Homo sapiens: one gene and its partner. The protein of the gene in region 2 interacts with the protein of the main gene of each other region in a pairwise test. Each region holds a gene or a part of one and is shown on either strand. Other genes may lie near its edges.

What was found.
Region 1: the proteins of ANKRD53 (region 2) and LZTR1 interact in a two-hybrid assay, tested with the Homo sapiens proteins (one large-scale study listed by BioGRID and IntAct).

The regions. Positions count from the first base shown.
Region 1 is NC_000022.11:20,984,988-20,988,796, reverse strand, and holds part of LZTR1 (leucine-zipper-like transcriptional regulator 1), read right to left. Parts: intron 2,957-3,809; coding exon 2,900-2,956; intron 1,294-2,899; coding exon 1,214-1,293; intron 788-1,213; coding exon 679-787; intron 9-678; coding exon 1-8. UniProt on the Homo sapiens protein: Substrate-specific adapter of a BCR (BTB-CUL3-RBX1) E3 ubiquitin-protein ligase complex that mediates ubiquitination of Ras (K-Ras/KRAS, N-Ras/NRAS and H-Ras/HRAS).
Region 2 is NC_000002.12:70,977,122-70,981,729, reverse strand, and holds the start of ANKRD53 (ankyrin repeat domain-containing protein 53), read right to left. Parts: upstream 3,101-4,608; 5' UTR 3,085-3,100; coding exon 2,915-3,084; intron 2,634-2,914; coding exon 2,387-2,633; intron 2,070-2,386; coding exon 1,870-2,069; intron 1-1,869. UniProt on the Homo sapiens protein: Required for normal progression through mitosis. Involved in chromosome alignment and cytokinesis via regulation of microtubules polymerization.

The DNA of each region.
Region 1 (3,809 bases), on a different chromosome or scaffold from region 2:
CTGGCAACCTGGAGTGTGAGGGAAGAGGGGAGGGAGTGAGGCCGCCCAGCACAGACCTGAGCCACCCAGCCCCATGTGGTCAGTGCAGGGGCCACAGCCAGGCTGCATGGCTACATCCACCCGACACTGGGGCTTCAGGACCTCCACAAGGCACTAGGAATAAACAACAGCCCCAGAGGCCGACTAGTGGCTTGAAGAGGAATTCAGACAGCCACAGAGGCACAGAACCTTCTCCTAGGTGCCCCCAAAATATCAAAGGGGGTGCTCAAAAAGCGGGACCCCAGAAGCGCCATCAGCAGTACATTGGATCTTATTGAACATTTTTTTGTGACAAGGTCTTGTTCTGTCTCCCAGGCTGGAGTGCAGTGGGGCACACATGGTTCACTGCAGCCTTGAAGTCATGGGCTCAAGTGATCTTCCCACCTCGGCTTCCCAAAGTACTAGGACTACAGGCATGCGCCACCACGCCTGGTCCATTTGGGTCTCTTCTGAAAGGAGGGAGTCTAAGGGCTGGGAGCAGGCCATGCATAGCTGCACCGGGGGATATTCCACCAATCCCAAGCTCCCTGCTATTGCGTGCCCTCAGGGTCCTCATCTGGGAGGCAAAAGGGGGCAGATCCCAGGTCCAATGCCACCCAGGACCCAGCCTGTCCCAAATGTTTCTGCAAAGTTTCTCACCGTCCTTCAATTTTCCACTCCGTCCACTGGCCAGTTGCAAACTTGTATTCAAAGAGGTCGTTTTTATTCTTCAAGTTAGAATTGGAATAAATGTCCCCAGTGTAACCCCCTGAGTAAAGAGAGTGAGAAACTGTCAAACCCAAAGGGCAGTCTTGGAGATTTCAAACCCTGGAAGGTGGAGCAGAATCTGGCCCCCCTGAAAATGCATAAGCCAGGACTCCTTCCACAAGCCCCGGAACGACCTGCTGCCTGTCTGCCTCTGTGCTGGGCTCTGGGGACACAGAGATGAGCAGGACACTGTTCCCAGCCACAGCTCAGTAACACAGAAAGACACCCAACCCTGTGAGCTCAGGGCCGTTAGGGCAAGGGGTCCCAGATCCAGCGCAGAATTCCGAAGACTGGCAGACAAAGCCACGGGTGGAGAGAGAGCCCCTGCTGTACACAGCACGAGCACAAATGCCCCAGGCCTGCAGAAGGGCAGGGTGTCTGTGGGCCTCGGGGCGACACAGCCCCTGGGAGGCAAGAGGCTGCTTACCAAAGACAAACATGCTGCTCCCATAGACGACGGCCGAGTGGTGGTAACGGGGGGCCGGTGGGGTCCCAGTGGTAAAGGCCCTGGGGTGGGCACAGGGGTGGTGAGAGTCAGCGGGGGTCACCCATGAGGTCCACACCCCCACAGGGTGGCCCTGCATCCCTGTGCTGCCTTTCTTTTTTCTTTTTTTTTTTTTTTGAGACGGAGTCTCTCTCTGTCGTCCCGGCTGGAGTGCAGTGGCACGATCCCGGCTCAACCTCCACCTCCTGGGTTCAAGCGATTGTCCTGCCTCAGCCTCCTGAGTAGCTGGGATTACAGGCACCCACCATCATGCCCAGCTAATTTTTTGTATTTTTGTAGAGACGGGGTTTCACCATGTTGGCCAGGCTGGTCTTGAAGTTCTGACCTCAGGTGATCCGCCCACCTCAGCCTCCCAAAGTGCTGGGATTACAGGCGTGAGCCACCGCGCCCAGCTACGTTTCACTTTTGTATTTTGAAGGTGATACCTGTCTCATCATAGAAACTTAAAAAAAAAAAATCACCAATAAGGAAAAAACAAAATAGGCACTAAAGCTCATGCAAATTCCCATTACCAGAAAACCTCTGGCAACACCTTGAGGTCTTCCCTGCACACCTCTCCTACGCATACTTAGGCTTCCATGAAATTTTTTAAAATGGAATCAAGTGGCAGATATTTTGTAAATTGCTTATTCCACTCACAGAATGTGACCAGGTCCTCATGCTACTCCAGGACCATCCACACTCCTGCTCTCAGCAGCAGTGCAGCATCTTACAGCACGGGGTCCATCAATTTCATTTAATACCTATCTATCTAACCATCATCTATCTATCTACCTATCATCTATCAATCATCTAATCTATATAATCTATATATCCATCATCTATCCACCTATCATCTACCTATATAATCTATCCATCATCTATCTGTCATCTATCATCTATCTACCTATCATCTATCATCTATTGTCTGTCATCTATCTACCCATCATCTATCTAATCTACCTACCTATCATCTACCTATCATCTATCTATCGATCTGTCATCTATCATCTATCCACTATCTATCTATCTGTCATCTATCTGTCTAATCTACCTATCATCTATCTATCATCTCTCTTTGTCTTTCTATCATCTATCTATCTTTCTTTCTATCTATCTATCTATCTATCTATCTATCTATCTATCTATCATCTGTCTATCTATCTTCCTAGACAGGGTCTCACTTTGTTGCCCAGCTGGTCTTGAACTCCTAGCTTTTTTCTGAGTTTTATACTTAAGCAATTTTTGACAAATAATTGTGAAGCCTTCAGAATGATTTTTTAAATTAATTTGTAACTACTAGCCATCTTACAAAATCAAGTGTGAGAGAAAAGACATAGCAACTTCTGTACCCATACTAGCATCAGCCTCGAGGTAGAGGTGGACAGCCCAGAAGGGTGCCGCCCTGTGTGCCCAGCTTGGCAGCTGCAGGTGCGGGGTGGTTACTTGATCTCCTCAGCCTGACAGGGCGGCTCTGGATGTGGCATCCCTGAGGCCGTGGTTATCTCCTCCTGGAAGCTTCTTTCTAGCTTCCCATGATGAGAGAGACTCTGCTAGCAACTGGGACCCAGCACTGTGCCACTGTGTTCTAGGAGGAAAGGCAGGGCCCTGGAGCACGGGGCCACCCACCTGCACCAGGAGCAGTCTTTCACATCGAACCGCAGGAGGTCATTGAGCATGGTCTTCCTGAAAGGCAGCCGGAAGAGAGGGTGGCATTAGCCAGGTCTACTCTGCAGTGACCCCAGAGATGGGCACTGCATGTAGCCAGGGTAGAGTAGGGGGCTGTTGTGGGCTGGGTCACTAACACAGCCAGGCAACCAGCTGATGCCCAAGAACAAGAGTGGTGACCACAAAGGAGGCTCCCCAACTGATATGGGCACCAGGGCTGCCACACAGGCAGACACCAGCCTGCCTGGGGTCAGGACCAAAGCATGAATGTGGCCACCAGGAGCCCAACCAGCAGCTGACATGAAGGCATGAAATGGCCCAAAGGCCAGAGTCACCCTCACACCTCACCCTAGCCTCCAGAACCCCTATTCACACGTCCCAATCCCCTTCCTCTGCAGCTGTACCCTGCAATGCAAGTGCTTGCCCGTGCCTCAGGAGAGGCCCTTTGCTTCTCTCTGATCTTCCTGCCACTTCTTAAAAAAAAGAAATAGAGACAATGGGCTGGGCTCGGTGGCTCACGCCTGTAATCCCAGCACTTTGGGAAGCCTAGGCGGGCGGATCACTTGAGGTCAGGAGATTGAGACCAGCCTGGCCAACATGGTGAAACCCCATCTCTACTAAAAATACAAAAAAATTAGCCTGGCATGGTGGCAGGCGCCTGTAATCCCAGCTACTCGGGAGGCTGCGGCAGAATCGCTTGAACCCGGGAGGCAGAGGTTGCAGTGAGCCAAGATGGCGCCACTGAACACCAGCCTGGGTGACAGAGCAAGACTCCATCTCAAAAAAAAAAAAAAAAAAATAGAAACGAAGTCTTGCTTTCCTGCCCAGGCTCGTCTTGAATGCCTGGCCTCAAGTGATCTTCCCACCTCAG
Region 2 (4,608 bases):
TTAGAAGGTATGTGATAGTTAAGAACTGCTGGAAGGAGAGCTGGCTTGGTTCAGAGACCACTAACCTCATCCACTCTTAAACCAACCAGCCCCCTGCCCTTTCCCTATGCCTCACCAGATTCCGTATGCCCACAAGATCTGCATGACCTGGGCCTAACCTCCTCGATCTTATCCTTTGACCTTGCCCACTCTTTCCCAACACATGGTCTTTGCATATGATGTTACCTCTACCTGGAACACTTTTCCCTGGCTCTTTGCATGGCTGGCTCACTCTGTCTTCAGGTTCCAATTTAAATGTCACCTCCTTAGAGGTGATTGCTTCATCCAAAATAGATCCTCCCCCTACCTGCTTTACCCCCTACACCATCACCCCGTTTATTTTTTCATAACCACTTCCCATGCTCTGTCAGGATTTTGTTCATTTATTTGTTTGCTAATTCACTGTCTGCTCCTTTACTAGAATGTCAGCTTCGTGAGGAGAGGGACCATTTCTGTGACTCTAGCATAGTGCTTAGCACATAGTGCATACTTGATACTTTGAATGAATGCAGTCTCCTATATGCCATGCACTTTTCAGTGATCACAGTAGTCCCATGTGATAGGTACTGCTATTCTCCCAAGTTTCAGTTGAAGACACTGAGACAGAGGTTCCCAAACTTAGCTTCAAGTTAGAAGCACCTGGGGATCTTTTCTGACTTCCCAAGCCCAGGTCACACCACAGACCCATTAAATCACAGCCTTTGGATTGGAACACAGGTGTTTATATTTTTTAATTTTTTTTTTTTAGACGGAGTCTCGCTCTGTCGCCCAGGCTGGAGTGCAGTGGCACGATCTTGGCTCACTGCAAGCTCTGCCTCCCAGGTTCACGCCATTCTCCTGCCTCAGCCTCCCAAGTAGCTGGGACAACAGGCACCCGCCACTACGCCCGGTTAACTTTTTTGTATTTTTAGTAGAGACGGGGTTTTACCATGTTAGCCAGGATGTTCTTGATCTCCTGACCTCGTGATCCGCTCGCCCCAGCCTCCCAAAGTGCTGGGATTACAGGCGTGAGCCACTGCGGCCAGCCTAATTTTTTTTATTTTTTATTTTTTGAGACAGTCTCGCTCTATTGCCAGGCTGGAGTGCATTGGAGCAATCTCGGCCCACCGCAACCTCCACCTCCCGGGTTCAAGCGATTCTCCTGCCTCAGCCTCCCAAGTAGCTGGGACTATGCCACCATGCCACCCGGCCAGGTGTTCATATTTTTTAAGCTCCCTAGGTAATTCCAATGTACACCTAAGTTTGGGAGCCAGAGTACTGGGGCATAGAGGTTGAGTGACTTGCCTAAGGTCCTGCTGTCTGCTAGCAAGTTGCAGAGCTGGGATGTAGACTAGGTCTGTTAAAGGCCAATCTTTTTTTTTTTTTTTTTTTTGTTGAGACGGAGTCTCGCTCTTGTTGCCCGGGCTGAAGTGCAATGGCACCATCTCAGCTCACCGCAACCTCCATCTCCTGGGTTCAAGCAATTCTCCTGCCTCAGCCTCCCGAATAGCTGGGATTACAGGCATGCGCCACCATGCCCTGCTAATTTTGTATTTTTAGTAGAGATGGGGTTTCTCCATGTTGGTCATGCTGGTGTTGAACTCCTGACCTCAGGTGATCCGCCTGCCTCGGCCTTCCAAAGTGTTGGGATTATAGGCATGAGCCACCATGCCCGGCTAAAGCCCAGTCTCTTTATTACACCATGTGGATTCCTGACTGCTTTATGTGGGACCCAATCCTTGTCACCTCCAGCAACCCCTCTGCTTGTCCTGCATGGATTTGCCTGCCTGGAAGTAGGGCTGTGCCCGTGCCTGTGCCCGAAGCCTCCCTCCTGAAGCAGGCTGGACTCACGCATTGAGGTCTGCGCCTTTCTCCAGCAGGTAGTAGATGCAGGGGAGGGCCACGGTGGTGTTGTCCCTGTGGATGACGAGGTGCAGGGGTGTCTGGCTATTGTTGGTCAGCAGGTCCACGGGAAACTTGTACTCCTCTACCAGGACCTGCAGGCATGCAAGCTTGCCCCATTGGGCGGCGAAGTGGATGGCAGTGAAGCCCTGTGAGGTTCAGAGCAGGCAGGAGGAGGCTGAGTGGGACTGAGGTCCCAGGGTCCACAATTTATATAAATTTATTGGGGTTACCTTCACTTTCTTCCCTGTGTCCCCAGGAATGCTCACACCCTTTTGCTAATTAACCAGTGTGTGTTCATCAGCCCACCCAACCTCCCTGCCCCCAAAATGGTCCTTCCACAGCCAGAAGATGAGTTAAATTAGGAAGATCTACCCAGAAAAGGATATCTCTTCTCCAGGTGACCACTCCGAGCAGCGTAGCGGGAGAGGGACCTCGGTCTTTGCCCCAACACTCAAGACCTTACCTTGTCGTCGGTGGGGATTTCCCTGAGGCTCTGGTTCAGACAGAATCGCAGCCATTCCACGTTGCCCACAGCCGCTGCGAACAGCTGGTAGTAGCTCCCGATCGCCGTCTGGTCGATTGCCGTCTGGTCGGACTCCTTGCTGGGGCTGGGGTCAGCGCGGGGCGGGGTGAGCGAGGCAGGGCGGCGCGGCCTGGCGAGGGCAGTCGCCTGCGCACTGAGGTGGTCTGCGAGGTCGGGCAGGGGCTGGCTGGAGGGCGGGGCAGTGGGGAAGCGACTCTGGGCCACGGCCCGGGCACCTCTCGGGAGGCGATCCCTGGCCCCCGCCTGGCTGGTGGGCGGGGCAGTGGGGAAGCGACTCTGGGCCACGGCCTAGGCACCTCTCGGGAGGCGATCCCTGGCCCCAGCCTGTCTCTGCTGGCTTCTCGGGCCGCAGCCTCCGCCCCCGCCCGCTCCAGGCCCTGCCCACCAGGGAGGCGCTGGGCCGGGTTCTCGCTCCCTGCAGCCGGGACACCTTCTCCCGCTACCCACCTGGGCTGCTTGGACTCCGCGTCAGTCCAGGTGGCCTTCAAGGAGACTTTGTTCGCCTGCTGCATGGAGCCACTTGGAGTTGGCTGCGGCCGAGCACCTCTCCCTTCTCCCCTTTCTGAGTGCCAGCTTCCGGAGCCCGCCCGCCGAGCGGTGCTGCCCGCGGAGGCCATCGCGGGGCTGGAACTCGGACCCGGGCCGGGCGGGCTACTCACACACCCGCCGGCGCCCCGCCCCCGGGGGCCACTCCTTGCCAGCTGGCCGCGGTTTCCCGGCCCCTTCCAGGCCGCTAGGGTTCGGCTGCCTCTCTAGCTGGAGGGGCAGAGCCCGGGGGCCTCCGGGGACCCTGCCCGCCTGCCGCTCCCCACCCGCCGCTCTGCTCCCGGTCTGAGCCAAAACCCCCACTCAACCTCCCAGTCCTGCTGCCCGGGAAACTCAGCATCAAACACACAAACAACAAAGACACTTGGCTTTTGTTTCCGATTATCAAACTAATAAGTAGAAAACAGAAATATTCAATGTGGAAATTAAAAATTACCATCCCACCACGCACAGAAATCATGGTTTATTGCAATATATATGCATATCATGACTATTTTTTGTATCTCTTTTCGTTTATTAATAGCATTATATTACGAGCTAGCGCCCATTGTCACTCCACATACTAAACGTACATTATGACGCAACCAGAGCCCAGCGTCATAATGGATGTGCCATTGTTTCACATGTGCTGCCAAGAACGAAATGGCTCAACTCTGGTTGTTTTCTTAGAATGGATTCCTGGGAGTCGAATCACTAGGTGAAAGGGAATGAATATTTTTCAGCTGTCAATATGGGCTTGCAGACTGCCTTCCAGGAAGGTTATTATTCACTTCCACTTCCACCTGCAGTGAAGCGGGTGCGCTGCACATCAGCAGTGTGGCTTTTGGCAAGTTATCTGACTTAGTTTCTGTGGGCGGCAAGCCACCCAGGTGCCAAGGCAAGAGACCGAGGGCACAAGCTGTTCCAGTATAATAAAATATACAAAACAACAAGAGTTATACTAGATCTAGATCTAGATCATAGACGTGATTATATATGAATATCGTTAATCATTAGTTTGTAGCAATTACTCTTTATTCCAATATTGTAATAATCCTCGCTCTATAATCATAACCTAGGAAAAACCAGGCCATAGAGAGATAGGAACCAAAGGGACATAGTGAGAAGTGACCAGAAGACAAGAGTGCGAGCCTTCTGTTATGTCCGGACAGGGCCACCAGAGGGCTCCTTGATCTAGCGGTAATGCCAGCGTCTGGGAAGACGCCGGTTACCAAGTGGACCGTGGTCTGGCGGACCCTGGTCTGGCGGACCGTGGTCTAGCGGTAGCATCAATGCAAAGGAAAAGCACCCGCTACTTAGCAGACCGGGAAAGGGAGTCTCCCTTTCCCAGGGGGAGTTTAGAGAAGACTTTACTCCACCACCTTTTGTGGAGGGCTTGACATCAGTCAGGCCCGCCCACAGTTATCTGGAGGCCTAAACATCTCCCTGTGACGCTGTACTTCAGCGGTCACACTCCTGTTTCACTTTCATGTTCCATCCTGTACATCTGGCTCTGCCTTCTAGATAGCAGTAGCAAAATTAGTGAAAGTACTAAAAGTCTCTGATACACAGAAATAATGGCGTAAGCTGTCCTCTCTCTCTCTCTCTCTCTCCCT